2 separate regions of the Homo sapiens genome follow, and region 1 is linked to region 2. Evidence: fine-mapped expression QTL. A gene starts in region 2. The other region holds a variant in brackets. All regions are shown on one strand. Distances are between the middles of the regions. Region 1 overlaps PRORP (protein only RNase P catalytic subunit). Region 2 holds the start of NFKBIA (NFKB inhibitor alpha).

The links.
Region 1: its variant is fine-mapped to the expression of NFKBIA in whole blood (TOPMed, PIP 0.97).

Annotation. Positions count from the first base shown.
Region 1 is chr14:35,177,235-35,193,702 of GRCh38, reverse strand. It overlaps PRORP (protein only RNase P catalytic subunit), which reads right to left. Exons shown (of 8, transcript NM_014672.4): 5 at 12,926-13,033. It overlaps PRORP-PSMA6 (PRORP-PSMA6 readthrough), which reads right to left. Exons shown (of 15, transcript NR_182666.1): 5 at 12,926-13,033. Among named protein-coding and RNA genes, the nearest start is that of PRORP, 63 kb to the right of the region's middle. The variant A/C (reference allele first, on the strand shown) is at 8,442.
Region 2 is chr14:35,397,845-35,414,312 of GRCh38, reverse strand. It overlaps NFKBIA (NFKB inhibitor alpha), which reads left to right and starts at 9,564. Exons shown (of 6, transcript NM_020529.3): 1 at 9,564-9,895; 2 at 10,515-10,623; 3 at 10,953-11,163; 4 at 11,454-11,542; 5 at 11,650-11,919; 6 at 12,253-12,800. The coding sequence starts at 9,669. The coding sequence ends at 12,300. RefSeq lists enhancers at 7,066-7,125, 9,103-9,502, 8,707-9,578, 10,683-10,732, 10,763-11,072 and 1 more and silencers at 9,573-9,742, 9,893-10,482.

The DNA.
Region 1 (16,468 bases), 220 kb after region 2:
AACATAATTTCAAGCATGGGGATCGAGAAACTCACATTTCTACAGTTGGGGCAAAAAAAAAAAAAAAATACACCCGGGATTATATACACACAAAAATACTGAGCATAGTTTATTGTATCTTAGGTGCTTTATGGTATTGAAACTTTTACAAGAGGTTATGTAAATCAACAGAAAGAAATAAAATAACTTGAGTGGCAGAAAAAATAAGAACTTACTGTCAAGTAAACACTTTACCAAATGACCTTTAATGACCAATACTTGTGCCTCTATTTTTCTCTCACTGTAGTAAAACCAACTAACAGATGGCAATCAAAACAAATTCTACAGTGTTTTCACCAAACCACTTTCTATTCAATGCCCCAAGCATGCTATAAGAATGAAAGCATTCAGTGCTGGTGTCAGCCATAATTCTTTTAAATTACATTATAAATTTTCATTCTGCTGAAGCCATTTTAACCAATTCTCAGTTATCCACAGAAATAGGGAGCAGAATTTTGAAGAACTAGCATGATTAACTAAAATGATGTGCTTTTCCCCCCATACATCTTCTATTAGAGGAGCTTATGAACACTGAAAATCCAAAATGCAAGCTGCAAAAGGAACAAAGAACAAAAGCATTAGGACTGAATTATGGGTAGGTATGTGGGGGAAGAGAGAATGAGAGAGAAAATGCAGCATTAGAAGCTTTCCACTTCATATCCTTTTTCTTTTTTTTTTTTTTCTACTCTGTCACCCAGGCTGGACTGTAGTGGCACAATCTAGGCTCACTCAACCTCTGGCTCCCGGGTTCAAGCGATTCTCCTGCCTCAGTCTCCCTAGTAGCTGGGATTACAGGCACGCGCCACCATGCCTGGCTAATTTTTGTATTTTTAGTAGAGACAGGGTTTCGCCGTGTTGGTCAGGCTGGTCTTGAACGCCTGACCTCAGGTGATCCACCCTCCTTGGTCTCCCAAAGTGCTGGGATTACAGTACAGGTGTGAGCCACCATGCCCGGCCCCTCCTTTTGTTTTCTTAATGGAAAGTTATTATACTATGTTGTCCCTGCCTCCTCAAGGGGGTCTCACAGCACCAATTATTAGTGATAACTGAAAAGAAAACCTAATTTATTGAAATGGAAGTTACAAAGGTATGTGTAAAGTATGAGTCATGGAGACTTTTAGAATTCCCTCCCTGATCATTCTAGGATAAATGGTCAACAACAGCATGGTCTCTTTTCACAAAAAACTACTATGAAGGAACTTGATATTGAAAAAGACAATCCAGGCAAAGACAGTTTTGCATTGCCATGTTGAAACTCATCTCTAGTTCCTGGGCTAGACTTGGCAATCCTGATGTAACTGAAAATACAGACAGAAGTGACTAGGCAGAATGAGGTTACTTTGGAAGAATCAAGAAAGACCTTTGAGGTGCTGATAATAATCCAGCCATTTGAAGATGGAAGAATATTAAAGAAATAGCAAGTACGAAGATTTGGAGGCAGGCACAAATTCAGCATGTTTGAGGGGCAGGAAAAATCCTAGTGTACCTACAATTCAGTGAAAGACAATGAGAAAAAACCAGATGAGGTTGAAAAGAGAGGCAAAGACCAGATAATGAGAGTTACTATAATCCACGATGAGGAACTTGGATTTTATTCTAAGTGTAAAGGGAAGTTATTGAGGCAAGCATGAAAAAAGCAAGGAGACCACTTAGGAGTTTTGGTGAGAGATGATGTTAATGGAAATGGAAAGAAGTGACTAGACTATGGGATATTTTGGGGGGTTAAAACCAAGAAAACTTGTCAGTCTACTGGGGTTAAAACCAAGAAAACTTGTCAGTCTACTGGGGTTAAAACCAAGAAAACTTGTCAGTCTACTGGATATAGGAGTAGTGAGAAAGAGTAATTGTGGCTGGCTGGAATCCTTGGTTTTTGGTTTGAGCAATTTGGTGGATAGTAGTGCCAATTACCCACCCCAGTTTTTGTTTCTTTTTGTTTGTTTGTTTGTTTTGGTTTGGTTTTGGTTTTGGTTTTTGAGACTGTTGTCCAGGCTGGAGTGCAGTGGCATGATCACACCTCACTGCAGCCTCGAATTCCTGGGCTCAAGCAATCCTCCTGCCTCAGCCTTCTGAGAAGCTGGAACCACAGGTGCATGCCATCACATCCAGCTAATGTTTTTGATCTTCTGTAGAGATGGGGTCTCGCTATGTTGCCTAGGCTGGTCTCGTACTCCTGGGCTCAAGTGATTCTCCCGCCTCAGCCTCCTGAAGTGCTGGGATTACAGGTTGTATTAGTCTGTTTTCATGCTACTGATAAAGACATACCCAAAACTGGGTAATTTATAATGAAAAAGAGGTTTAATGGACTCACAGTTCCACGTGGCTTGGGAGGCCTCACAATCATGGCAGAAGGTAAAAGGCACGTCTTACATGGCGGTGGGCAAGAGAGAATGAGAGAAGTGAAAGGGGAAACCTCTTATAAAACCATCAGATCTTGTAAGACTTCTTCACTACCACAAGAACAGTATGAGGGAAACTGCCCCCAGGATTCAATTATCTCCCACCAAGTTCCTCCTACAACATGTGGGAATTATGGGAGCTACAATTCAAGATGAGATTTGGGTGGAGACATAGCCAAATCATATAACAGGTGCATGCTACCATGCCTGGCTTTGTTCAGAAGTATTTGTAAGAGTCCAAATAACATGTTGGGAAATGGTTGTTCATAAAAAGAAATCCATGAACCTAAAACTGCTCTAGGAAAATTAAGTTTATTAAATTAAAAAAGAAAAAAGAAATCCAATCCAAGAAAATCTAAAATATCTTGCAACAGATTATGATGAAGAGATGTTGGTTCAAGTGCTATATAAAAGTTGACTCAAGTAGTATGTAAGGGTCCATAACTAATACTTTTAAATACAGTCAGCCGGGTGCGGTGGCTCATGCCTGTAATCCCAGCACTTAGGGAGGCCAAGTAGTCGGATCAGGAGGTCAGGAGATTGAGACCATCCTGGCCAACATGGTGAAACCCCGCCTCTACTAAAAATACATAAATTAGCCAGACGTGGTGGCACGTGCCTGTAATCCCCGCTACTCAGGCGGCTGAGGCAGGAGAATTGCTTGAACTCCGGAGGCGGAGGTTGCAATGAGCCAAGATCATGCCACTGCACTCCAGCCTGGGTGACAGAGCAAGACTCCATCTCAAAAAAATAAAAATAAATAAAAATAATAAAATAAATTTAGTCATAGTTTCTTCAAAATTACAACATACTCTGGAGATTTAAATGTTACTAGACCATTTTGCAATACTTTTTTTTTTTTCCTTTTTGAGACAGAGTTTCACTCTTGTTGCCCAGGCTGGAGTGCAATGGCTCGATCTCGACTCACTGCAACCTCTGCCTCCTGGATTCAAGCGATTCTCCTGCCTCAGCCTCCCGAGTAGCTGGGATTACAGGCATGCACCACCACGCCCGGCTAATTTTGTATTTTTAATAGAGACAGGGTTTCGCCATGTTGGCCAGGCTGGTCTTGAACTCCTGAACTCAGATGATCCACTCACCTCGGCCTCCCAAAGTGCTGGGATTACAGGCATGAGATACTGCGCCCAGCCTTTTTTTTTAAGACGGAGTCTCACTCTGTCACCCAGGCTGGAGTGCAGTGGCGCAATCTCAGCTCATTGCAACCTCTGCTGCCGGGTTCAAGCGATTCTCCTGCCTCAGCCTCCCGAGTAGCTGAGATTACAGGAAAGTGCCACCACACCCAGCTAATTTTTGTATTTTTAGTAGAGACAGGGTTTCAGCATCTTGGCCAGGCTGGTCTTGAACTTCTCACCTCTTGATCCACCCGCCACAGCCTCCCAAAGTGCTGGAATTACAGGCATGAGACACTATGCCCAGCCTGCTATGCTTATTTTTTAAAAAAATTTTATCTCATGTATTTTGGGTAAATACTATTTTCTATTCTGACAATTCAAGTAAATCTTTAATGAAAAGAGTCATGCACGAACACAAGAATCATTGTTAATAGACAACAGAATACACAATATGCATTTCTTGTTTAGATAACACAATCATTAGCCTAACCTTGTGGCTAGCATTCCTGTTATTGATCTATGGTCATATCCTCACAGCTTAAAACAGTATCTGGCTTGGAATGGGTGCTCAAGAAACAGTAATTGAATCAACCTAATAATTCCCTGCCAAGTTTCTGTAACTGTTCTTCTTAAAAGGCAGGCTATATAATCAATCTGCTAGTCACTCAGAATCCTTCCCTCTTCTTTAAAAAAAAAAAAAAAAAGCTCAGAATTTTTCTTTTTCTGAAAAATTGAAACCAGGGAAATATATTACTTTATGCAGGCTGGGCACCATGGCTCACACCCATAATCCCAACACTTTGGGAGGCTGAAGCAGGCGGATCACTTGAGCCCAGGGGTTTGAGACTAGCCTGGACAACATGGCAAGGCCCCATCTCTAAAAACAACAACAACAAAAATACTTTAAGCAAAATACAATTTACAGTTGAAAAACATCTACAAGAAAAGTAGTAAGACTTAGTCTGCCTAGATTTACAGGTTAAACAAATAAATAGGGTGAAGGTTAGTCCCCTTTAATCTCACTATATTCTAAATTATGTTGGTTTATCAGGTACTCAAGATTGAACTATTTCCCTAACAATGCAAACTCTGTAACTGCAAGAACTAAAACTATAAAACTCTTAGAAGAAACATAGGCATTAATCTTCATGACCTTGGATTAGGCAATACTTTTTTTTTTTTTTTTTTTTTTTAGACAGAGTCTTGCTCTGTCGCCAGGCTGGAGTGCAGTGGTACGATCTCAGCTTACTGCAACCTCCGCCTCCCGAGTAGCTGGTACTACAGGCACCCACCACCACACCCAGCTAATTTTTGTATTTTTAATAGAGACAGAGTTTCACCATGTTGGCCAGGATGGTCTTGATCTCTTGACCTCGTGATCTGCCTGTCTTGGCATCCCAAAGTTCTGGGATTACAGGCGTGAGCCACGGCGCCCGGCTCTTAGGCAATGATTTCTTAGATTAGACACCAAAAGCACAGGCAACAAAAGAAAAAATAAATTGGACTTCATCAAAACTAAAACTTCCATGCCTCAAAGGATATCATCAAAACACCGAAAAGAGAATCCAAAGCCTGGGAGAAAATACTTAGAGATTATATATCTGATAAAGATCTAGTATTTGGTATATAGTTAAAAATTATAACTTAGCTGGGTGTGATGGCTCACACCTGTAATCCCAGCACTTTGGGAGGCCGAGGCGGGCAGATCACGAGGTCAGGAGTTCGAGACCAGCCTGACCAACATGGTGAAACCCCATCTCTACCAAAAATACAAAAAAGAGCCAGCCATAGTGGTGCACGCCCATAATCCCAGCTACTCAGGAGGCTAAGGCAGGAGAATCGCTTGAACCCGGGAGGTGGAGGTTGTAGTGAGCCGAGATCATGCCACTGCACTCCAGCCTGGGCAACAGAGCGAGACTCTGTCTCAAAAAAAAAAAAAAAAATTACAACTCAACAATAATAATAAAAAACAATTAAAAATGGGCAAAGAAATAGACATTTCTGGCCAGGCACGGTAGCTCATGCCCATAAGCCCCACACTTTGGGAGGCTGAGGTCAGGTGTTCAAGACCAGCCTGAACAACATGGTGAAACCCTGTCTCTAATAAAAACACAAAAATTAGCCAGGTGTGGTGGCCGTGCCTGTAATCCCAGCTACTCAGGAGGCTGAGGCAGGAAAATCGCTTGCACCCAGGAGGTGGAGGTTGTAGTGAACCGAGATCGCACCACTGCACCACTCCAGCCTGGGCGACAAAGCGAGACTCTGTCTCAAAAAATAAAAAAAAAAAGAAAAGAAAATAAATATACATTTCTTCAAAGAAGATATACAAATGGCCATTAAATATATTAAAGGATATTCAACATCATGCATCATTAACAAATGCAAATCAAAACTACAAGATACTGGGCCAGGTGCGGTGGCTCACGCCTGTAATCCCAGCACTTTGGAAGGCCAAGGCAGGCAGATCACCTGAGGTCAGGACTTTGAGACCAACCTGGCCAACATGGCGAAAACCCGTCTCTACTAAAAATACGAAAAAAAAAAATTAGCCAGGCATGGTGGTGCACACCTGCAGTCCCAGCTACTCAGGAGTCTGAGCCACGAGAATTGCTTAACCCAGGAGGCAGAGGTTGCAGTGAGCTGAGATCATGCCACTGCACTCCAGCTTCGGTGACAGTGAGACTCCATCTAAAAAAAAAAAAAAAACAAAGAAACTACAATATACCAGGTCCTGCATTTCTTACATGACCAAAACAAACAAAAAAAGATACCACTTCACACCTGCTAGGATGACTATAATCAAAAAGACAAATAACAAGTGTTCGTGAGGATGTGGAGACATTGGAACCTTTATACACAGCTGATGAGAATGCAAAATGGTGCAGATGCTTTGGAAAACAGTTGGGAAGTTCAAAAGATTAAACACAGAGTTATCATATGACCCACCAATTCTACTCCTAGGTATATAGCCAAAAGAAATGAAAACATATGTCCACACAAAAACTTGTGCCTAAATGTTCATAGTAGCATTACTCATAATAGCCAAGAAGTGGTAACAACCCAAAGGTCCATCAACTACAGAACAAATAAATAAAATGTGGCATATCCATACAATGGAACACGATTTGGCAATAAAAGGGAATGAAATACTGATTCCTGCTACAAAATGGATGAACTTTGAAACACTATGCTAAGTGAAAATATGAAATGTCTGGAATAGGTAAATTCATAAAGATAGAAAGAAGGCCAGACATGGTGGCTCAGTCCTGTAATCCCAGCACTTTGGGAGGACTGCCTGAGGCCAGGAGTTCAAGACCAGCCTGAGCAACACAGTGAGACCCTGTTTCTATGAAAAATAATAATAATAATAATAAAATTAGCTGGGCCTGGTGGTGTGTGCCTGCAGTTCTAGCTACTTGGAAGGCTGAGGCAGAGGACCACTTGAGCCCAGGAGGTCAAGCCTGCAGTGAGATATGACTGCACCCTTACCCTCCAGCTTGGGCAACACAAGTACCTGTCTCAAAAGAAAAAAAAAAAGAAAATGAAAGAAAAAAGGAAAAGACAGAATGAAGACTAGTGGTTGCCAGGGACCAATGGGAGGAAGAAACTGGGAGTTAGTGCTAATGGGTATGAGGCTTCTTCAAGAAAAATGAAAATGTCCTGGAATAGGATAGTGGTGATGATTGCAAAACTTTGTGAATACAGTAAAAACCACTGAATTGTGCACTTTAAAAGGGTGAATATTATGTTATATAAATATTATATTTCTCAATAAAAAAGAAAAAAAAATACAACCATTAAAGAATTGAGACATGACTTGGCCAAGTCTCCAATTGTGCCAAAAGCAAAATCTAGGCGGCATGGTGGTTTATACCTGTAATCCCAACACTTTGGGAGGCCACAGCAGGCAACTTAAGCCCAGGAGTTCAAGACCAGCCCGGGCAACATGACAAAACCCCGTCTCCACAAAAAAAAAAAAAAAAAATTAGCTGGACTTGGTGGCATGTGTATGTAGTCCCAGCTACTCAGAAGGCTGAGGTTGGGGGGTGTCTTGAGCCCAGGGACTTTATAGTCCCCAGTTCCACTTAGCACATCTTGTAATCATACTTCCTCATTATTAACATTCCAGAAACTGTAAGATGAAACACTGGTTTAGGAATAAATAACTTTTAAGCAAAAAAACAAACAAAAAAGTATACTATTTCAGTAACCAACAAAATTGTACATTAATCCATATAGTTCATACCATAATCTTGTTTTGGAATCACAATTAACATGTAAGTATACACTTTCATATCTGAATTGAAGGCTGTTCTGTTCTAAATCACTTTTGGCCATAACAGTTCTGTACATCCTCATGGTGACATATTACACACCACTCTCCTTAGAGCCTGTGCTATTCATCTTCACTTTTATAACACTTTTAGGACCAACAGCATGACACTAAGGTTGAAAAATACTGGAGTTTACCTGTATTTCACATCTGATTATTGCTTTTTCTTTCTTTGAATTATGCCATTCTGGAAGTTAGTCAACTTTGCTTGAATGTCTATGGGAAGGTATTGGCAGGTGGAAGTTTGCAGGCTCAGTGGCAACTTTTCAAAATGCAAAAATCAGTCATAACAACCTCTTCTTGCTTTAAAATTCTGTACCTTAGTCTTAGAAAAGCAACTTCCACTGTCTTTTATTACATTGTCAGGAAACCTTTGGCAAATATTTAAAGTTAAGATTTAGGTTAAAACTACAAATTTACAAGAGAAAAACAATCCCATTAAAAAGTGGGCAAAGGACATGAACAAAAACTTCACAAAAGAAGACAAACATGTGGCCAACAAGCATATGAAAAAAAGCTCAATATCACTGATCATTAGAG[A/C]AATGCAAATCAAAACCACAGTGAGATACCATTTCACACCAGTCAGAATGGCTATTATGGAAAAGTCAAAAAATAATACATGCTGGTGAGGTTGCAGAGAAAAGGGAACACTTATACACTGTTGGTGGGAGTGTAAATGAGTTTAACCATTGTGGAAAGCAGTATGGCAATTTCTCAAAGTGCTAAAAGCAGAACTACCATTCAACCCAGCAATCCCATTACTGAGCATATACCCAGATGAGTAGAAATCATTCTACCATAAAAACACATGCAAATGAATGTTCACTGCAGTACTATTAACAATAGCAAAGACATGGAATCAACCTAAATGCCCATCAATGACAGATTGGATAAAGAAAATGTGGCACATATACAACATGGAGTACTATGCAGCCAAAAAAAGAATGAGATCATGTCTTTTGTAGGAACATGGATGGAGATGGAGGCTATTATCGTTAGCAAACTAATGCAGAAACAGACATCCAAATACTACATGTTCTCACTTATAAGTGGGAACTAAATTATAAAAGCTTATGAACACAAATAAAGAAACAACAGACACTGGGGTCTACTTGAGCGGGGAGTGTGGGAGAAGGCAGAGGAGCAGAAAAGATTAACTATTGAGTACTGGGCTTAATACCTGGGTGATGAAATAATATGTATAACAAACCCCCTTGACAAATGTTTATGTATGTAACAAACCTTCCCATGTACCCCCAAGCTTAAAATAAAAGTTTTTTAAAAAAGATTTAGGTTAAAATTAAACAGTGTAACAGTGTGTGGAGCTACGAATATAACTAATTCAACTGAGGTGGCAATGTATAGCTAATTCTGTACACACCCAGGCAATGACAGTCACCAATAAATCTCTACATGGTGGCTGGCAAGTTTCTACTGACATGAATTATAACATAGACTTCAGAAAAGTTAAAATATAAAAAAGATTCATTTGAAAATTGAGAAAATAAAATACATTTACAACTAGAACTTTCTTTTTTTAGTTCCTTAATCTCTATCACCCTTAAGCTATAGGCTCTGAGATCAAGATATGTGATAATGGTGCTATTCCATAAACAATGAATGTAAAAAAGTTATCTTCTCATTAATGAACTTACAGAGAATACTAGATATATAATCAACCATTAATGTAAAAGGACCGAGAAAAATGTGTAATGTATAATGCAGAGAGTTTATAGGAAGAGCATAAATAATATGTACATCACTCCACAGACAAAAAGTCTGGAAATCTCTTCAAAGATGGAAAAAACTTAAAACTTATAGAACTTCGAATTCCTAATTTTTCCTTTATGTACACTTATAGGTAATTGTATTAAGAGAAAGATAAGGAAGACAGAAAAGACAGTGAAGAATATTCCCTTTCTGGAACTATTTCATTAAAGTTTGTCCCACAATTTAAAAAAATCTGTTTGACCTAAAAAATGGGGAAGAAACCATCCAGCCCTTTTCACTTAGCGGACTCATGGCATAGGTGAGTGGCTGAAACAATCATGTAATAAGTAACCTTAAAGAAATGTGTTATATTTAGGCACCATTATACACTTTTGGTGGTAGTATAAATTACTACAATCATTTTGGAAAGCAATTTGGCAATATATAGTGAGATCTTTAAAAATATATATACCCTTTGACTAAAGAGTCCAGTTTCTCAAAATCTATTCCAAAGACATCCTATGAAACATGCACAGAGGCTGTCTTCCAAGTATTACTTATTATAGTGAAAAATGGAAAGCCTCATTTGTCTAACAACAGGTAAATGATTTAAAAATTATTGTACATCCACAAGACACAGAGTATTACAAAATTATTTTAAAATATTTATCAAGAATGCTTTTTAACTTTTTTCCTTTCCTGATATTTTTAAAATTTTTAAGTAATATATACTCATGGTAAAAGAAAATTCAAAAAACGTGAACAAAAACCAGAAGTCCTCTCAATTCTCTTATACAGTATTCTATCCCCAATTCCCAAAGGTAACTACACTGTTAAATTGTGTGTGTGTGCGTGTGTGTGTGTGTGTGTATGTATGTATGTGTTAAACTTCTAGAAATTTTTTGGGCATACACACACAAACTTATCTAACAAACATTTATCTATACATGGATAATTTTTTGCTTTGTTTTTAATATAAATAGAGCAATTCTAAGCATGTTGTTTTTCATTTTGCTTCTTACACTTATATTCTGACAACTGTTCCACAGCAGCACATATTGGTTTACCTTATTCACAAAAATTAATATTTAAATATGTATCGGGCTTAAGATTGATAGATATTTAGGTTGTTTAGATTTTTCTGCTCACCAATAATGCAATAATGAACACATTTGAATACATTTCTTTATGTACTAGTGTTACTATGTCAGTTCCTAAAAGCAGAATTTCAGTATTTTAGATAATGAAAGTTACAGACAAATCATCCACCAAAAATATCGCACTGATATCATCCTTCCTACCTCTTCAAACTATTCTAAACACTGAATATTACCAACTTTTAAAGATTTACCAATCTGGAAGATAAATATTTTAATCTGTGTATCTATAAATATAAGTAAAATTAAACCACTATTCCACTGCATGGGTCATCTTTTTCTTTTTTGTTTTCGAGGAGTCTCACTCTGTCGCCCAGGCTGGAGTGCAATGGCAAGATCTCAGCTCACTGCAACCTCCACCTCCCGGGTTCAAGCAATTCTCTTGACTCAGCCTCCCAACTAGCTGGGATTACAGGCACCTGCCACCACACCCGGCTAATTTTTGCATTTTTAGTAGAGATGGGGTTTCACCATGTTGGCCAGGCTGGTCTTCAACTCCTGACCTCAGGTGATCCACCCGCCTTGGCCTCCCAAAGTGCTGGGATTACAGGCGTGAGCCACCGTGCCCAGTCGGTTCATCTTTTTCTTATAGGCTTATGAGTCCTGATACAGTGAGGAAATTTGCTCTTTGTCACATATTGTAAACATTTTATTTACTTTTTATTTTTTGAGATGTAGTCTTGTTTTGTTGCCGAGGCTGGAGTGCAGTGACATGATCTCAGCTCACTAAAACCACCGCCTTCCGGGTTCAAGTGATTCTCCTGCCTCAGCCTCCCAAGTAGCTGGGACTACAGGTGTGCGCCATCATGCCCGGCTAATTTTTTTGTATTTTTAGTAGAGATGGGGTTTCACCATGTTAGCCAGGCTGGTCTCGAACTCCTGACCTCAGGCAATCTGCCCGCCTCAGCCTCCCAAAGTGCTGGGATTACAGGTGTGACCCACCATGCCTGGCCTACATTTTGCAGTTTGTTGTCTTTCAACAGTGTTTATATTTTTTAGTTCAGTTTTGTTTTGTTTTTTACTGTCTAGCAAATTTTTCTATTCTTCCCATTAGGGTTCCTCAACTTTACATATGCTTCAATTTCAAATATAAAAATAATATATATGTATTTTACTACTCTTTTTATCATTACTTTTTTTTTTTTTTTTTTGAGACAGTTTTGCTCTTGTTGCCCAGGCTGGAGTGCAATGGCACGACCTCGGCTCACTGCAACCTCCGCCTCCCAGGTTCAAGCAATTCTCCTGCCTCAGCCTCCCGAGTAGCTGGGATTACAGGTACATGCCACCATGCCCAACTAATTTTTGTATTTTTAGTAGAGACAGGGTTTCACCATGTTAGCCAGGCTGCTCTTGAACACCTGACCTCTGATGATCCACCCACCTTGGCCTCCCAAAGTGCTGGGGATTACAGGCATGAGCCACTGTGCCCAGCCAGCGGCAGCAATTTTTAAGAAATAGTTTAATTACAGATGAATGGCTATAGATTGCCAATGATAAGAGCCACAAGTCTGAAACCCAGGAGCTCTCTACAATCTAATTTTGATGTTATGACTGTTTTCTATAGATTTACTATACAAAATTAGCCTCAATTTTTTAATCTACAAAATAGAGATTAAAGTAACTGTTAATTGCAGCTATGAAAAATGATAGTCTTATTAGAAACTAGTAGGGCATTTATAAATTAACAAATGGCTACCATATAGAAAAAAAAACTGCTTAGGTTAATTTATGAACATACTATGTTTGGAAAAAACAAATGTGAGTAATGAGTGATTAATATCTCTTGATATTGTATATTGATAATTTTCAAATATAAGGATATGACCCAAAGGGAAATGACAGAGCGACCCCAAAGAGAAAGCAGAGACCCAGGAGAAGGTTAGCTAAAGGTTACACGAAACGGGAAAATCTGGCCCTGTATTGCAATCTTTCTTTTAATTCCTCACTTTTAATTGTTTTCTCCCAGCCTTGAAGAGCGACTTATTAGTGATGAAAATAGTAAATCTTAGGGGAGCATGCAGTTGGTCACTGTGGCACCCTGAAGACCTTAGTTTTAGAGGAAGAAAAACTGAGGAGCTAAGAGCCCCAAGAAGGTCATAAATGGGTATAATAAATATTTCTAGAGATGTGGAATAACAAAGTAAAACTTATACTTACAAGTTGAGATTCACGAACTTTAGGAAACATTTTGGCAACATTGAGACCATCAATGACAACATCAAAAGGAGGACGAGATTTTATGAAGTTCTCAAATCTCTTAAGTTCCTAATAAAGAAATGTCAGACAAAACATTAATAAGAACTCAGTAAGGACTTTATTATAAACACACTGCAGTGACCTTTATTATTGTTTTGATAATTCAAAATATTCATCCCTTAAAAATACACACACACACACACACACACACAGATACTCTACAAATGAAATCTGAAAAAGCCAGTCTAATGGATGCAACTGCATACAATTATCCAATACACTCTATAATCTCATAGTGCTTTATACTGCACAAAGCACTTTCATATGTAATTTCATTTGATCTGCAGCTGGCCTATCTAGACTTCTAAATTAACCCACATGATAGTTATGATAAGAATGAACTGGCGGTTCCAAGATGGCCGAATAGGAACAGCTCCAGTCCACGGCTCCCAGCGTGAGCGATGCGGAAGATGGGTGATTTCTGCACTTTCAACTGAGCTTTGAAGAGAGCAGTGGTTCTCCCAGCACGGAGTTTGAGATCTGAGAATGGACAGACTGCCTCCTCAAGTGGGTCCCTGACCCCCGAGTAGCCCAAGTAGGGGCAGACTGACACCTCACACGGCCGGGTACCCCTGAGACGAAGCTTCTAGAGGAACGATCAGGCAGCAATATTTGCTGTTCAGCAATATTCGCTGTTCTGCAGCCTCCGCTGCTGATACCCAGGCAAACAGGGTCTGGAGTGGACCTCCAGCAAACTCCAGCAGACCTGCAGCTGAGGGTCCTGACTGTCAGAAGGAAAATTAACAAACAGAAAGGACTTCCACACCAAAACCCCATCTGTCTGTCAACATCATCAAAGACCAAAGGTAGATAAAACCATAAAGATGGGGAAAAAACAGAGCAGAGAAGCTGAAAATTCTAAAAATCAGAGCACCTCTCCCCCTCCAAAGGAACGCAGCTCCTCGCCAGCAACAGAACAAAGCTTTGCGATGACTTTGATGAGTTGAGAGAAGAAGGCTTCAGACGATCAAACTTCTCTAAGCTGAAGAAGGAAGTTCGAACCCATTGCAAAGAAGCTAAAAACCTTTAAAAAAGATTAGATGAATGGCTAACTAGAATAACCAGTGTAGAGAAGTCCTTAAATGACCTGATGGAGCTGACAACCATGGCACGAGAACTACGTGACGAATGCACAAGCTTCAGTAACCGACTCGATCAACTGGAAGAAAGGGTATCAGTGATGGAAGATGAAATGAATGAAATGAAGCAAGATGAGAAGTTTAGAGAAAAAAGAGGAAAAAGAAATGAACAAAGCCTCCAAGAAATATGGGACTATATGAAAAGACCAAATCTATGTCTGATTGGTGTACCTGAAAGTGACAGGGAGAATGGAACCAAGTTGGAAAACACTGCAGGATATTATCCAGGAGAACTTCCCCAACCTAGCAGGCAGGCCACCATTCAAATTCAGGAAATACAGAGAATGCCACAAAGATACTCCTCAAGAAGAGCAACTCCAAGATACATAATTGTCAGATTCACTAAAGTTGAAATGAAGGAAAAAATGTTAAGGGCAGCTAGAGAGAAAGGTCAGGTTCCCCAGAAAGGGAAGCCCATCAGACTAACAGCGGATCTCTAGGCAGAAACTCTACAAGCCAGAAGAGAGTGGGGGCCAATATTCAACATTCTTAAAGAAAAGAATTCTCAACCCAGAATTTCCTATCCAGCCAAACTAAGCTTCATAAGTGGAGGAGAAATAAAATGCTTTACAGACAAGCAAATCCTGAGAGATTTTGTCACCACCAGGCCTGACCTAAAAGAGCTTCTGAAGGAAGCACTAAACGTGGAAAGATACAACCGGTACCAGCCACTGCAAAAACATGCCAAAACGTAAAGACCATCGATGCTAGGAAGAAACTGCATCAACTAATGAGCAAAATAACCAGCTAACATCACAATGACATGATCAAATTCACACATAATATTAACCTTAAATGTAAATGGGCTAAATGCTCCAATTAAAAGACACAGTCTGGCAAACTGGATAAAGAGTCAAGATCCATCAGTGTTGCTGTATTCAGGAGACCCATCTCACATGCAGAGACACACATAGGCTCAAAATAAAAGGATGGAGGAAGATCTACCAAGCAAATGGAAAACAAAAAAAGGCAGAGGTTGCAATCCTAGTCTCTGATAAAACAGACATTAAACCAACAAAGATCAAAAGAGACAAAGAAGGCCATTACATAATGGTAAAGGGATCAATTCAACAAGAAGAGCTAACTATCCTAAATATATATGCACCCAATACAGGAGCACCCAGATTCATAAAGCAAGTCCTCAGAGACTTACAAAGAGACTTAGACACCCACACAATAATAATGGGAGACTTTAACACTCCACTGTCAACATTACACAGATCAACGAGACAGAAGTTAACAAGGATATCCAGGAATTGAACTCAGCTCGGCATCAAGCGGACCTAATAGACATCTACAGAACTCTCCACCCCAAATCAACAGAATTTACATTCTTCTCAGCACCACATCGCATTTATTCCAAAATTGACCACATAGTTGGAAGTAAAGCACTCCTCAGCAAATGTAAAAGAACAGAAATTATAACAAACTGTCTCTCAGACCACAGTGCAATCAAACTAGAACTCAGGATTAAGAAACTCACTCAACCGCTCAACTACATGGAAATTGAACAACCTGCTCCTGAATGAATACTGGGTACATAATGAAATGAAGGCAGAAATAAAGATGTTCTTTGAAACCAATGAGAACAAAGACAAAACATACCAGAATCTCTGGGACACATTTAAAGCAGTGTGTGGAGGGAAATTTATAGCACTAAATGCCCACAAGAGAAAGCAGGAAAGATCTAAAATCGACACCCTAACATCACAATTAAAAGAACTAGAGAAGCAAGAGCAAACACATTCAAAAGCTAGCAGAAGGCAAGAAATAACTAAGATCAGAGCAGAACTGAAAGAGACAGAGACACAAAAAACCCTTCAAAAAAATCAATGAATCTAGGAGCTGGTTTTTTGAAAAGATCAACAAAATTGATAGACTGCTAGAAAGACTAATAAAGAAGAAAAGAGAGAAGACTCAAATAGACACAATAAAAAATGATAAAGGGGATATCACCACCGATCCCACAGAAATACAAACTACCATCAGAGAATACTATAAACACCTCTACGCAAATAAACTAGAAAATCTAGAAGAAATGGATAAATTCCTGGACACATACACCCTCCCAAGACTAAACCAGGAAGAAGTTGAATCTCTGAATAGACCAATAACAGGATCTGAAATTGAGGCAATAATTAATAGCCTACAAACCAAAAAAAGTCCAGGACCAGACGGATTCACAGCCAAATTCTACCAGAGGTACAAGGAGGAGCTGGTACCATTCCTTCTGAAACTATTCCAATCAATAGAAAAAGAGGGAATCCTCCCTAACTCATTTTATGAGGCCAACATCATCCTGATA
Region 2 (16,468 bases):
CCAGGCGTGGTGGCACATGCCTGTAATCCCAGCTACTTGGGAGGCTGAAGCAGGAGAATTGCTTGAACCCAGGAGGCGGAGGTTGCAGTGAGCCGAGATCGCGCCATTGCACTCCAGCCTGGGCAACAAGTCAAAAAAAAAAAAAAAAAGAAAAAGAAACAAAAGAGAGATTTAATTGTATAATTGTAATATTTTTAGACTGCTTGGTTTTTTTTAATCACAGGAAGGTATTCTGTTTCAACTTTAAAAATAATTCATTTTTGCCAGGCTTGCGCCTGTAATCCCAGCACTTTGGGAGGCCAAGGAGGGTGGGTTGCCTGAGTTCAGGAGTTCGAGACCAGTCTGGCCAACATGGTGAAACTGCGTCTCTACTAAAAATACAAAAATTAGCTGAGTGTGGTGGCAGGTGCCTGTAATCCCAGCTACTGGTGAGGCTGAGGCAGGAGAATCACTTGAACCTGGGAGGCAGAGGTTGCAGTGAGCCGAGATCACACCATTGCACTCCAGCCTGGGCAACAGAGCAAGACTCCATCTCAAAACAACAACAATAACAAAAAGTACCAAGAAGCTACCATGGTACAACTCAGCCCGCACTACCGTGGGGACAGTGAAGATGGAAGGAAGAGGATGGTCCGGGTATCGTGTCAATAGCAGGATGCACTGAGCTGACTGGCAACAGGCACTGAAGGAAAACTAACACTCACAGATAAAGTGGGGGTCTTTCCTTTGGGACTGTGTTAAGTGATGTACCACAATCACAACTTCATATCCAGTCTCGGTGTACCTCCTCAACTCAACATTCCTAAATTCCTCTTCTCAAGAATCGGTGATGCCTCAGAGAAAACTTCTTCCACAAATGGCCAGAAGATGTCACTGCAGACAGCACCATGCATATACTGTGTTCCTCATGTTGGTGTTCTGCCCTGCCATTTGTGAAGGGAAAATTCCCCCTCGGCTCCCTCCCTAACTCCCATAGCCCCTGCTCCTGCTCTGTGTGTAGCCTCTTCCCTTTACCCTGTGACTCCCCTCCTCCTGCCCTGAAATCCAGCGAGGTGCTTTCCTGATGCCCTGGCAACCTGGAGATGAACCTGATCCCTAAAGGCGGAAGAGCCAACATCGAGACTGGGTTATCTGTGTGCTTCCCTACTCTCTATTCATGATGTTCATTTAGATTTCTAGCAAAACCCATACCTGTGCTGTCAACCTCACCCATTTCCACCTAGCTTCTTGAGTTTCAATCAATGAGTACAGGGGCACCCCATTCCCTCTTTTCTCACACTCCTCCAAACTGGCCCAATTTTCAAATATTAGCATTTAAAGATTTGGTGATGCATTAATCTGCTTCACTTTCTGAAAATATCAGTGTTTTTGGCCAAATAATCACTACACGTTAGCCTATGAACAGCCCTGGGATATAAGAAATGATGAATATTCCTAAGCCAAGCTAAGTGGCTTATCCAAATGGATTGTGTCACAGTCATGGGACTGGACTCTGACAGCTGACACCTGGTAACAAAGAAAAAATGTTCCAGGCCAATTTCTCCCTTTTTTTCTGCTCATGGCTTCTATTTGTGATCCTTCTCACTCTGTTTCTCATTTGCTTTCAGTGGTTAAAAATAGGCCGAGCAACCGTGGCTCACACCTGTAATCCCAACACTCTGAGAGGCTGAGGCAGGCAGATCACGAAGTCAGGAGATCGAGACCATCCTGGCCAACCTTGTGAAACCTTGTCCCTACTAAAAATACAAAAATTAGCCGGGAATGATGGTGCGTGCCTGTAATCCCAGCTACTCAGGAGGCTGAAGTAGGAGAGCCACTTGAACCTGGGAGGCGGAGATGGCAGTGAGCCGAGATCACGCCACTGCACTCCAGCTTGGCAACAGAGTGAGACAACATCTCAAAAAAAAAAAAAAAAAAAAAAAAAAAAAGAAAAGAAAAGAAAAAAATAGGCTGAGCACGGTGGCTCACGCCTGTAATCCCAGATTTTGGGAGGCCAAGGTGGATGGATCACTTGAGGTCAGGAGTTCAAGACCAACATGGCAAAACCCCCCATCTCTACAAATAATACAAAAATAAGCTAGACGTGGTGATAGGCGCCTGTAGTCCCAGTTACTAGGGAGGCTGAGACATGAGAATCACTGGAACCCAGGAAGCGGAGGTTGCAGTGAGCCAAGATCACACCACTGCACTCTAGCCTGGGGAGCAGAGCGAGACTCTGTGTCAAAATAAATAAATAAATAAACAAACAAACCTGGCCAGGCTAGGTGTGGTGGCTTACGCCTATAATCCCAGCACTTTGGGAAGCTGAGGCAGGTGGATCACCTGAGATCAGGAGTTGGAGGCCAGGAACATGGCGAAACCCCATGTCTACTAAAAATACAAAAATTAGCCAGGTGTGGTAGCACATGTCTGTAATCCCAGCTGCATGGGAGGCTAAGGCAGGAAGATTGCTTGGGCCCAGAAGGTCAAGACTTCAGTGAGCAATAATCGTGCTACTGCACGCCATCGTGGGTGACAGGGTGAGATCCTGTCTCAAAAAAAAAAAAAAAAAAAAATCAACCTAAGAAAAACTTTCAGAAACTATATTTTTGTGGTACCGTTCCCCACTAATAGCCTCAGAGACAAATCTCAATTTCTAATACTCATCCAAGCACTCCGGTGTTTTACTCCAGATAATAGAGGCTCTAAAAGGAAGTCTGAGAAAGGCATTATTTTAGCACTTACAAGAAAGGGCTCAGGAACAAGCTTCCTAAATCCTTACTCTGTAATATGAATCTATCTCTTAGCAGCTCTGATTCTGTTTTCCTTTTTCCTAAATGATTCCCAAGACCTTAGACCGTAGGGGGGAAAGGATCTACCTCTCCATGTGGTTTCCGTTGGTGGATACAGCTTAGGCCCCCTCTGAGAAGGATCATGAGCTCCTCACCTAATTTCAGTGCCAAAGAACAAGGGCCTCATATCATTTATGTCTCATCCCCTGCCAAGTACCAGGCTCTTGTGTGGAAGTTCCCTAGTGCTAAGTATCCTCATACCCTGACTAAACTCAGAATGAATTTACACCCAAGACAAAATAGCAAATACAGCGGCATGCAGGGGAAACTGCCTTAAGCCTTTACCACCTTCCTGATCCAACAACTTCTCCCTGAACACAACAGACCATGAACAATGCTACACACCTATAAATATTACTTGGTTACTGCCAACAAGCCACGAAAAGGGAGAGCCAGTAATTTTGGCCACGGGTGACACGTGCAGGCCTCCTCCTTCCCTCGCAGCAGGTTACCCAAGAGCCAGATGGGCATGCAGTTAGGGCACCAGCAGAGCAGGCACACCTCAGGAGATGTTTAGTGAAGTCATCTGATTGCTTAAAACAACGTAAGTAGTCATTGTGAGAAAAATCAGAACTTTGTTGGACTTATTATGCTTATTTTACACTGTAGCATTTAAAAATTGCTTTGGGGCAGGGTGCAGTGGCTCACACCTGTAATCCCAGCACTTTTGAAAGTGAAGATGGGCGGATCGCTCGGACCCAGGAGCTCAAAACCAGCCTGGGCAACACAGGGAGACCCATCTCTACAAAAAATTAAAAAATTAGCCAGGCACAGCCGGGTGTGGTGGCTCATGCCTGTAATCCCAGCACTTTGGGAGGCCGAGGCAGGCAGATCACTTGAGGTAAACAGTTCGAGACCAGCCTGGTCAACACAGTGAAACCCTGTCTCTACTAAAAATACAAAAAATTAGCTGGGCATGGTGGCAGGCTCCTGTAATCCCTGCTACTTAGGGGGCTGAGGCAGGAGAATCGTCTGAACCTGGTAGGCAGAGGTTGCAGTGAGCCAAGATTGCACCATTGCACTCCAGCCTGGGTGACAAGAATGAAATTCCGTCTCAAAAAAAATTAGCCAGGCACAGTGGCATGTGCCTGTGGTCCCACTGCATGGGAGACTGAGGTGGGAGAATTGCTTGAGCCCAAGAGATTAAGGCTACAGCGAGCTGTGATCATGCCACAGCACTCCAGCCTAGGTGACACAGCAAGACCTTGTCTCAAAAACACAAACAGGCCGGGCATGGTTGCTCACACCTGTAATCCCAGCACTTTGGGAGGCCAAGGCGGGTAGATCACCTGAGGTCAGGAGTTTGAGACCAGCCTAGCCAACATAGTGAAACCCTGTCTCTACCCAAAATACAAAAAATGAGCCGGGCATGGTGGCGGGTGCCTGCAATCCCAGCTACTCAGGAGGCTGAGGCAGGAGAATCACTTGAACCCGGGAGGCAGAGGTTGCAGTGAGCCAAGATCACATCATTGCACTCCAGCCTGGGCAACAAGAGCAAAACTCTTGGTTTGTCTCAAAAACAAACAAACAAAACAAATAAATACTTGGTTTGAGGGAGGAAAAATTCACTTTTCAGAGGTTAGAGCCCCTAATCCTAACCCTGCCTGGCAGGAGCAGCCCTGCGCATCATGGATGGACACACTGTCCCAGTCTCCTGTTACACAGGAGCAGAGAACCCATGATGCCAAGAGCAGAAGGTTGTGCCTCTTGCAAAGCACAATTAAAACATCATACCTTGGCTGAAAAAGAGGTTGTAAACTCAGAGCTTATAGGCTCTGTTTAGCCAATAGATGCAGAAATGCATTGTGTTTAGTTTTCATAATGTTTTTATGTTTGTTTGAGGCAAGGTCTCACTCTTTTGCTGAGGCTGGAGCTCAGTGACACAGTCATGGCCCACTGTAGCCTCAACGTCCCAGGTTCGAGCAATCCTCCCACCTCAGTCTCCCAAGTAGGTGCGACTACAGGTGTATGCCACCACACCTGGTTAATTTTTTTATTTTTATTTTTATAGCGATGGGGTCTCACTATGTTGCCCAGGCTGGTCTCAAACTCCTAAACGCAAGTGATCCTCCTGCCTCACCCTCTCAAAGTGTTGGGATTGCAGGCATGAGCCACGGAGCTGGGCCAATTTTTTTTATTTCTTTAACAATAGAAGGTCACTACTGAACTGAAGGTGCTACATGCCAAAAGTTGTCTGAGCTAAGTATGAGGGAAGTACACACCCTGACCTAAGCTGTTGGAGATCCCACTCCTTTCAGACTCAAATGGTCTGTTTCACTCATCTGTGAAATCTGCCTGCTCCCTATGCGTAAGTATTTTGAGTTTGAGATCCTTTAAAGCTTTGATCTCCATTAAATTGCAGAATTTGTAGCAAAGGAAACACATTAAGGATTTGACGGTCTTATTTTCACTTCACTACAAATGAAGGTTCTGACAGCTGTTTTTCCTTTTTTTTTTTTTTAATTGAGACAGAGTCTCTCTCTGCTGCCCAGGCAGGAGTGCAATGGCACGATCTCAGCTCACTGCAACCTTCACCTCCCAGGGTCAAGTGATTCTCCTGCCTCAGCCTCCCGAGTAGCTGGGATTACAGGCATGTGCCATCACGCCTGGCTAATTTTTGTATTTTGAGTAGAGATGGGGTTTCACCATGTTGGCCGGGCTGGTCTTGAACTCCTGACCTCAGGTGATCAGCTCGCCTCAGCCTCCCAAAGTGCTGGGATTATAGGTCGGAGCCACCGCCCCCAGCCTTGTTTTTCTATGGGAAAAGATCCATAGCTTGGGGGCTCCCTGTTCTGAAGAGGATGCAGACAGTTGCTACCACGATAGCAAGAAAGAAGACAACCTGAGACTGAAAGCAGAATATTTAGAATTTCACAGTGGGGCTGCCAGTTGGGAGTGCACCTGCCTTGCTCTTCAGGAACTCTGTCATGGCTCGTCTTTCTTCCAGCCTAGCTGCACTGAGCAATAGGTAGCCTGATTCCAGAGTTGAATTTGCTGTAGCCAAAACAATTTAGTTTTAATTGGCCAGGCCAGTTGACACAGGCCACCCTGCCCTGAGGATTTTGGACCACCTGGCTGAACTTGTAGACTCTCTCCATGGCACTTCAGGCAATAGGTTTTGTCCATACTGTGCTTGTTCCATGCAGGAGGAGTGCCTGAAGTGCCTGCAGCCAAACCAGGCCCTGGCGATGCTCCTTTTCCCATGGGGGTGCTCCTGGAGCATCACTGGCCGTCCTGTCATTTCCTACGGCTGCGTCCTGGGCCAAAATACAAAGCAGCTTTGAGGTGTAACTTATTATTTTGCCTTATGCATTAAAAAGGCCAAATAACATTAAAAATCAGTTATCTAAAGTATTTTGTTTTGTTTTGTTTTGTTTTTTGAGACAGAGTCTCACCCTGTTGCCCAGGCTGGCGTGCAATGGCGCGATCTCGGCTCACTGCAACCTCTGCCTCCTCGGTTCAAGTGATTCTCCTGCCTCAGCCTCCTAAGCAGCATCTGCACCACCACACCCGACTAATTTTTTGTATCTTTAGTAGAGACGGGGTTTCATCATGTTGGCCAGGCTGGTCTCGAACTCCTGACCTCATGATCCACCTGCCTCAGCCTCCCAAAGTGCTGAGATTATAGGCGTGAGCCACTGCGCACAGCCTACAGTTTTAACATTTTTTTTAACGGTTATGTTAGCTAGAATGTTTGACAATGAGGAGGAGAAAAATCTGAGTGCTGAAGGGTCCATAAAGGTCTTTCTTTTTCTTTTTTTTCTTTTTGAGACAGGGTCTCAGTCTGTTGCTCAAGCTGGAGTGCAGTTGTGCCATCATGGCTCACTACAAACTCCACCTCCCAGGCTCAAGCAATTCTCCCACTTCTGCCTCTGGAGTAGCTGGGACTACAGGCACCTGCCACCACACTCTGCTAATTATATTTTTTGTAGAGACAAGAGTTTAGCCTTGTTGCCCAGGCTGGTCTCCAACTCCTGGGTGGCAAGCAATCCTCCTGCCTCAGCAACCCAAAGTGCTGAAATTACAGCAGTGAGCCACAACTCCTGGCCCATAAAGGTCTTTCTAAATCAAAACCAGACCCTCTTGTTGTCTTCTGCCCAGTCTGCTCATGGTTCTAATTTCCAAGTGTATATTCTTTTTCACCCACGTTGTAATGTTTGTTGACTTAAACCATATAGCGCTATAGATGATGGGGAGAAAACCTGTTGGATCACATTATTCAAAACTGTTTCCCAGAGTCGCAGGAAAACAATAGGTACCTCCTTGGAAATCTCCACTGTAGGGACAAGTCATCAAGGCTCAGCACCTCCCAATTTTTGCAAAAGGCACTATGACAAATCAAGGAACGCCTGTGCCTTACTCTTACCACTAGGTGTCACACAAAACAATCAGGAATAAACACCAAGATCCTGAAGGCTACCAGAAATATAAAACCATAGAAGGTGGTGCAAAAAAACCTTATTCCTCAGATATTTTTATTTTTTATAACCATTTTTATACCTGAAGCCAAATATCTTCTTCTGATGTATCCTCTATAATTGGGACATTTAGAGTTTGATGTTTCTGTACTTGTTTAAAAGAAGTGACTATCCCCAGATGGGGGTCAGGGGACACCCACCCTTTATTTTCCCTAACAGTTGGAGTAGAAAATACTTTTGAGTACATTCCAAATTATAGTGTAGTCAGTCTGATTTTCACAGCGTGTTTTCAAAAGTGTTAATACTAAGACTGCTTTGGCCAAATGATTAATATACTGCCAAGGGGTTCCTGGGTAAATTTCTATGCATTTCAGTTTCTTTTTAGGGAAGTAGGAACAATATCTATCTTACAAGATTAGTTCTGAGAACAATGTGGTACATAAGGCGCTGGAATTCTTTCAAAAATTTATACCCTGACATTTCCAAGAGCCATGGTCACCCTTACAAAGGAGAGTTAGGCATGCATTTGTAGACAAGCAATATGACTTTTAAGCTAGAAAAGACCTTAAGTAACATTCAATCTAATCTTATTATAAAAGTTAAGTATACCACAAAAAAGTTAACTGACCTCTCCAACTAATGTGCAGTCAAGTAAAGATAGAACCTGGAATTGAGATGTCCCATTGCAGTCACTGTTTCACCTTGCCTCAATCATTGTAGATTTGCATATCATAAACCTGCAGAGACAATGGTGTCTATCCCTGGGAAGTTTTCATTGTAACATGTGATCATTATTACCCTGGAGGGTCTATCTGATTTTAATTTTTTTCCCTTCATACTTGGTCTCTCTCTATCGAGTCAGATTTCTTTCATTCTAATATTAGGGGAGGGGTGGAGATACGAAGAGAGGGGAAGGATTGGTTAGTACAAGGCCAGTCAAGGTAAAGATGATTGCAATAATCACCAGAAATCTCTGCAGAACTACAGAGGCCTCCTGGGACTAATTCTGAAGAGCTCTGACCGAAGTTTGCTTTATTTTGCCTGTACCAATTCTACCAAGTAGATGAATTCAGTCCATGGCTTGCAGGCTTGGAGGTGGAGGTGGAGTGGAGAGCATAAATTATATTTCTGCAGGTGAAACCAGAGCATAGTGAGCCGAAACCCCTTTCTACCCAGGTGGCGTGAATGGGTCCAACTGCTACTGTCCCCCAGGACAAGAGAGCAAGGAGGGGCGGGCAGGATGGGACTACCTTGAGCCTCCCGCAGGATGCCTGGCAACTACTTTCTTAGTGGTCCTTAAGGTCCAATCGCGGTTAAGGCACTAACTAAACTCATTCTTCAGCCTCCTTCTCTAAGTTCTCCTCGAATTTGGGTGCCCAGAAGTAGGCTCACGATCCTTTTTCTGCGGGAGCACAATGTAGGTCAGATAGCATAAACGAATAGCTACTTATGAACACAATAGCTACTCTGCTATTGCAAGGTATCCACAACCACCACTACAAACATTAACACCTTGCTTTACTTGGGAAACAAAAAAAATCATGGTCCTATTCAGCAGTTTCCCCATACAGGGAGCGTTTGCCCCTCCCCCAGTCAACAGGGCTGTTCATCCCTAGGAAGTGATTTGAGAGTTCTCCAAGGATTTAGGCTTTTCACTCCTCCAAAGCTTTCACAACTTCTACCTGGCGGGGGTGCGTGGGGGGGTGGGGGCGAAGCTAAAAGTTCCTTTGCTGCAAAGAGCCTGGTATAGGCAGAAACACCGGCGCGGCCTGCAGCCCCCTAACCACAGTGCGTCCTTCCCCTTAGAAGTCTGGGGAAAGCAAATCCCTACGCCCAGCCATCATTTCCACTCTTGCGTTTTCAAAAGATCAAAAAACGGAAAGGACCGGCAGGTTGGCAAACCCCAAAGAGGGACCGCCCATCAGGTCGGCGTCCTTGGGATCTCAGCAGCCGACGACCCCAATTCAAATCGATCGTGGGAAACCCCAGGGAAAGAAGGCTCACTTGCAGAGGGACAGGATTACAGGGTGCAGGCTGCAGGGAAGTACCGGGGGGAGGGGGCCTGGTCGGAAGGACTTTCCAGCCACTCGGCGCTCATCAAAAAGTTCCCTGTCCGTGACCCTAGTGGCTCATCGCAGGGAGTTTCTCCGATGAACCCCAGCTCAGGGTTTAGGCTTCTTTTTCCCCCTAGCAGAGGACGAAGCCAGTTCTCTTTTTCTGGTCTGACTGGCTTGGAAATTCCCCGAGCCTGACCCCGCCCCAGAGAAATCCCCAGCCAGCGTTTATAGGGCGCCGCGGCGGCGCTGCAGAGCCCACAGCAGTCCGTGCCGCCGTCCCGCCCGCCAGCGCCCCAGCGAGGAAGCAGCGCGCAGCCCGCGGCCCAGCGCACCCGCAGCAGCGCCCGCAGCTCGTCCGCGCCATGTTCCAGGCGGCCGAGCGCCCCCAGGAGTGGGCCATGGAGGGCCCCCGCGACGGGCTGAAGAAGGAGCGGCTACTGGACGACCGCCACGACAGCGGCCTGGACTCCATGAAAGACGAGGAGTACGAGCAGATGGTCAAGGAGCTGCAGGAGATCCGCCTCGAGCCGCAGGAGGTGCCGCGCGGCTCGGAGCCCTGGAAGCAGCAGCTCACCGAGGACGGGGACTCGTAAGTGGCGGAGGCCCGGGGCTGGGGGTCGTCGGGAGGGCGGGACGCGCGCGGCCTGGGGGTGGGAGGCGCCGGGCCTGGAGCCCGAGCCGGGGGACCAGCGATGCAGCCGGGCGGGCGCCGCGGCACCCCGGGGCTCCTGCACCGCCCCGAACGCTGCAGGGCTGCAGGGCCGCGCGGGGCACCGGCCCAACTCGGAGGGGCGGCGGCTGGGCCCTGGTGGATGGCAGCGTCGCCACACGCCCCCTCCCCCCAGACCCGTCCTCTAGGCCGGGGGCGGGGCGGCAGCGGGGACGCGAAGTCCCCGGTTGCATAAGGCGGGGCGGGAGTTTCTGGCCGCTGGCGGGCGCCGAGCAGCCGGGAGGGGAAGTACAGGGCGTTCCGAGCTGGCGGGAGGGCGGGGCGGTCTGGCCGGCGCCCGCCGGGGCCGCGGGGGGAGGGGGGCGGAAAGTCCCTGGGCGCCTGCCAGGAACACTCAGCTCATAATAACCTCGCGGAAAACACCGCGGCCTCGGCCTCCAGAAACCCCGGCCTTGCGCAATCCCCCGCAGCCCGCGCCTCCCTGGGCCCCACGCGGTGCACTCACCACCCCTGGGGTTTTTCCCTCTCTTCCCCACAGGTTCCTGCACTTGGCCATCATCCATGAAGAAAAGGCACTGACCATGGAAGTGATCCGCCAGGTGAAGGGAGACCTGGCCTTCCTCAACTTCCAGAACAACCTGCAGCAGGTGCGCCGCTTGCCTGGCCCGGGTTCTCTCTGACCCTGGGACGTAGCTGATGTAGCAGAGTCACCCCAGATCCTTTCTGAATTCAGGGCCACTGAGCACTATTTACCCTCACCTTTTACTTCACATCAGCCCACATCCTAGAGAGTGAAGGAAATTCCACTGATTTGGTGAGGTCTTTATGACCCACCTGGAGCCTCTGCTATTTGCCAGCCCTCCCCACCCCCCTGTCTAGGAGGAGCAGCACCCAACCAGGAGACACGGGTTGAGGGGAACTCGGGGTGTGGGTTTGGTCCATGGCTTACTTTCTCTGGTCTCTCTTGCATTCGTAGACTCCACTCCACTTGGCTGTGATCACCAACCAGCCAGAAATTGCTGAGGCACTTCTGGGAGCTGGCTGTGATCCTGAGCTCCGAGACTTTCGAGGAAATACCCCCCTACACCTTGCCTGTGAGCAGGGCTGCCTGGCCAGCGTGGGAGTCCTGACTCAGTCCTGCACCACCCCGCACCTCCACTCCATCCTGAAGGCTACCAACTACAATGGTATGTCTGCCTCCCTGCCCTGCCCCACCCCCTCGGAGGGCAGGTGACGTGGAGAAGGGGCAGGTGGGCCAACTTAAGGAGTCCAGGCAAGAGCTTAAACTCCTAACATTTGGAAGGTTGAGAAAATATGTGTGCAAAGTGCCTATTGGATGCCTTTATAAAGTTCTTTCAGAACCCAGACTGTGGGTTCTTAAAATTCAGAAGATAAGACTACTTGTTCCATAAAAGAATAGGTGAAAGGAGTGAGGGTTGAAACAGGTGGTTATACTTTTTTCCTTTTGTTCTTCCAGGCCACACGTGTCTACACTTAGCCTCTATCCATGGCTACCTGGGCATCGTGGAGCTTTTGGTGTCCTTGGGTGCTGATGTCAATGCTCAGGTTGGTGCTTCCTGCCCCCGACGCACTGAGTCAGGCTCCTCGTGCTTATGTTGTGAGCAGAAATTCCAAATGCAGCCATAAGCATCTCAAATTCCTTTTGGTTTCAGGAGCCCTGTAATGGCCGGACTGCCCTTCACCTCGCAGTGGACCTGCAAAATCCTGACCTGGTGTCACTCCTGTTGAAGTGTGGGGCTGATGTCAACAGAGTTACCTACCAGGGCTATTCTCCCTACCAGCTCACCTGGGGCCGCCCAAGCACCCGGATACAGCAGCAGCTGGGCCAGCTGACACTAGAAAACCTTCAGATGCTGCCAGAGAGTGAGGATGAGGAGAGCTATGACACAGAGTCAGAGTTCACGGAGTTCACAGAGGACGAGGTGAGTCTGTGAACTCCTTCGGCGCTCTAACTAATGAGGTGCCATTCCCTTCACCCTCCCAGGCCCCTAGAGCTGCTCCTTATCAGAGGGGTATCTACATAATGAGTCTCTCAAATTTCTGTGCATAACCAGTATCCCAAGAATGTACCTGCCCCCCCTCTTTTTTTAAAGAGAAGCATTAAAGGCAAACTCTCTCAGCCTGTAAAGTTCATTATATTTGGGCTATGGAGAATGGAGTCCAAGAGTTATTTCCAGTAGTGGCCTCCCCATCCCGGTAGCTTGGCAGAGCTCCGCTCCGGAAGCTTAACGTGTCTTTTTTCCCCTTGTTTTCAGCTGCCCTATGATGACTGTGTGTTTGGAGGCCAGCGTCTGACGTTATGAGCGCAAAGGGGCTGAAAGAACATGGACTTGTATATTTGTACAAAAAAAAAGTTTTATTTTTCTAAAAAAAGAAAAAAGAAGAAAAAATTTAAAGGGTGTACTTATATCCACACTGCACACTGCCTGGCCCAAAACGTCTTATTGTGGTAGGATCAGCCCTCATTTTGTTGCTTTTGTGAACTTTTTGTAGGGGACGAGAAAGATCATTGAAATTCTGAGAAAACTTCTTTTAAACCTCACCTTTGTGGGGTTTTTGGAGAAGGTTATCAAAAATTTCATGGAAGGACCACATTTTATATTTATTGTGCTTCGAGTGACTGACCCCAGTGGTATCCTGTGACATGTAACAGCCAGGAGTGTTAAGCGTTCAGTGATGTGGGGTGAAAAGTTACTACCTGTCAAGGTTTGTGTTACCCTCCTGTAAATGGTGTACATAATGTATTGTTGGTAATTATTTTGGTACTTTTATGATGTATATTTATTAAACAGATTTTTACAAATGAGTTATCCTGATCATTTTCTTCAGGCTGCCGTGGGCCTCCGGTTCTGAAGTTCCATCCTCCGGCAGAGGTGGAGGTGGAGCAGTGTGAGGGAGGAGGTAACTCCCAGCAGCTTCTCACACCTGACACCCAGCCTCCAGCAAAGCTTTGCAGGCACCCTGGGCCCAGTGTGTGGGAGGGAGGCTGTTGCAAGGTTATAGGAAATTACCAATCTCAGGCTTGGGGTGGAAGCATGCTGTTTGGCCTGTGGTTGGAGACCTCTCCGTTGTCATTCTGTCATCCCGTTGATTTAAACTTCCTGGACCCTAATTGCCAGTTGAGGAAATTATTTTGGCCAAGAAGAATATGCTGAATTCATATAGAGCTGGGAAAGATCTCACTAATACAGGAAGTTCCTAAGGACATAGGCTCAGAAATGGGACTGCACTGACATTTGTTAGCAGATGCTCACCTCTGAGCCTCAGTTTTCTCATTTATTAGCTGGGCTGTTGTGAAAATTACATAAGACAATCCACGTAAAATGCATAGCAGAGCGGCAGGCACGTAGTGCTAAAGAAAAACAAGCTGTTACGCAACGTTCTTTATGTCATACCAGGAGAAACAAGTCCAGAGAGAATGTCCTGTCTAGGGTCACCTTGCAGGAGAAATAGGTGGTTAACATATTTCATACGTGCTCGTTTTGGGGTAAACATCTTTTAAGAGCATTCCATCTCTTAAATCTATGTGTTATTGGCTGTAGTAGAAAAGTAATAAAGGCTTGAAGGGTCTTATCAGTTCAGTCTACTGATTGTACTGGACGATTCTACAGGAGCAAATGTCACAAGAAACCAGTAATGTGAAACTTGGCTTAGATGCTCTATCTTGAGGTTTTCATCCCTAAAATGGCTCTCTTGCCTAGGTAGAGAGAAGAATAAAGATGGGTATACTGAAAGCCCAGACTTTACCGCTATACAATATAAAAAATCTGCATTTGTACTCTGTAAACATTTTTATTAAATTTTTGGGGGATAGGGTCTCACTCTGTTGCCCAGGCTGGGGTGCAATTGTGCAATCACAGCTCACTGCAGCCCCAAACTCCTGGGCTCAAGCGATCCTCCCAACTCAGCCTCCTGAGTAGCTGGGACTACAAGCATGCACCACCATGCCTGACTAATTTTATTTGTAGAGACAGGGTTTCTCTATGTTGCCCAGGCTGGTCTGGAACTCCTGGGCTCAAGAGATCCACCCACTATGGCCTCCCAAAGCACTGGGATTACAGGTCTGAGCCACCACACCCAGCCAAAACATTTCTGAGGAAAAAGTAAAGTTATTGCATTCTAGAAAATGCAGAGTAGTGTATAAATGCAATTCATGTCTTTGACTTATACCTAAGAAAAAATTATTACATTATCCCTTTCCTGATCCACAAACGATGTCAAAGTCAAAAGAATATGGTCACCTTGGACCAAAAAGGAGCCAGTATTTAGTGGTCTTCCACATATAAGGAGTGTTACTACAGACTGGTTAAAGCCAATTCTGCCCCAATTCTTTCTCTTTCTTTTTTTTTTTTTTTTTTTTTTTTTGAGATGGAGTCTTGCTCTGTCGCCCAGGCTGGAGTACAGTGGCATGATCTCAGCTCACTGCAACCTCCACCTCCCGGGTTCTAGCGATTCTCTGTGCCTCAGCCTCCCGAGTAGCTGGGATTACAGGTGCCTGCCACCACGCCTGGCTAATTTTTATATTTTTAGTAGAGACAGGGTTTCACCATGTTGCCCAGGCTGGTCTTGAACTCCTGACCTCAGGTGATCTGCCCACCTCAGCCTCCCAAAGTGCTGGAATTTCAGGCGTGAGTCACCGCGCCCAGCTCTGCTCCATTTCTGTAGCCTTAGTCCATCCGGAACCCAGCACTGGCGGTCCCTCTACCAGTCTTATTCTCTGTCAAAGTGCCCGGGTTCTTCCCTGAAATTCCTTGTCCATCCCCAAGCACCTCAACACAGGTGTTAAATGACCTACCACAGGAATTAGGTCAGTTAGGTTCAGCTCTCAGCTAAGTGGGAGAGGTAAGATGGGAGTGGGGTGATATCCCCACCCTCATTCTCAAAAGAACAAAGGTTGGAAACTTGGCTCCCCAATTTTGGAACGATGCCCTTAGTACTTTCTACTCAGTCAAATGTGACTCTTCTTCCCTCTGTAAAGGGGTTAAATTTGTGCCAATTCACCCATACGCTGTCTCTAGTTCTGTGCTAGGTTGTAGAAACAGGACAAAGCTGTGCGCCACCCCCTCATCCCCAGCCTCCTTAGAGCCCAGCTCTTGCATAGGGGCGTCACCCTCCATGGTCAAGCAAGGGTGGGCCCCTTCTCACCCACTTGGGCCCAGTCTCCCACCTTTCTAGGCTTCAGCTTTTCTTCTTTCTAGGTCCTAAACCTTGGAAAAGGTTCTGTCATCTGCATAAATCTCGAGGTAGCTGGGCCCAGTTAAGCACTGAAGGCTGCCCCGGTTCCTTACTCTCTAGCTCTTCTCCCCATTTCTCATCCCCCCCCCCACCTTTTTTTTGTGTGTGTGTGATAGGGTCTCACTCTCTTGCCCAGGCTGGAGTGCAGTGGCATGATCTCGGCTCACTGTAACCTCCGCCTCCTGGGTTCAAGCAATTCTCCTGCCTCAGCCTCCCGAGTAGCTGGGACTACAGGTGCACACCACTACACCCGGCTAATTTTTATATTTTTAGTGGAGATGGGGTTTCGCCGTGTTGGCCAGGCTGGTCTCGAACTCCTGACCTCAAGTGATCCACCTGCCTTGGCCTCCCACAGTCCTGGGATTACAGGTGTGACCCACCACACCCAGCCCTCCCTGCTTTTCTTTTCTTTTTGTTTTAAATTTATTATCTTTCTGTCCTGCCTGTTGGTTGGGTGACTGGAGCCTGGAGTTCCCTAAAGGAAAATTTTAGAAGGGAAACATTCTAATCTGTAGAAAATCTTCAAATTCCTAAGCAAACAAGAGCAAAAGATCTCAAAGTAAACAGGCCAGCAGACGGAGAGTCTTCTTTAATGCACTTTGATTTCCTCCAAGAAGTTACAGATTGTGTGGGGACAGGTAGGACTAAGAGTGCCTAGAGAAAGGGGAAGTGATATGAGGGGGAAATAATATATCACATCAGCAACTTCCTTGAATTCAGTTCCTTGATTCCTTCTGCCTGCCTTATCCATCAGGATACATTTCCTGTAGCGGCCACGTGTACCAAGTCCTTCCAGAAAGTAAGGATTTTTCTTTAAAGAGGGAACAAACTAGTCTGAGCAATCTGAAGACCTTCCCCTGGGGCCTGGAAATTCAGAAGGCTGGGAGCTTGGGTGGATTTGCATGGAAAGTTCAGTTGCTACTGGAAGTGATTAAGTGGTGACAGAATTGAGTCTGTCAGATGGGTCTTCCTTCCCCAAGACTTCCCACCCCCGTACCCACCCACTCCCCCACCCCCAGCTTTCTGCCAGATTTTCATTAACTTGCCTTAAGTGTAGCTGAAATTTCATTTGGCAAGAAAAGTCTGAGTTGTGGAACTCCAGTCTGAAACATGCCCAAGAAACATTCCCCAACCTCTGGTGCCTGGACAAGAATATCCTAGGCTGTTTCCCCATTGAAAGAGAGCATTACAGAAACTGAAACTGGACCTCACCTGTGTTTCCCTCCTAGAGAAGTA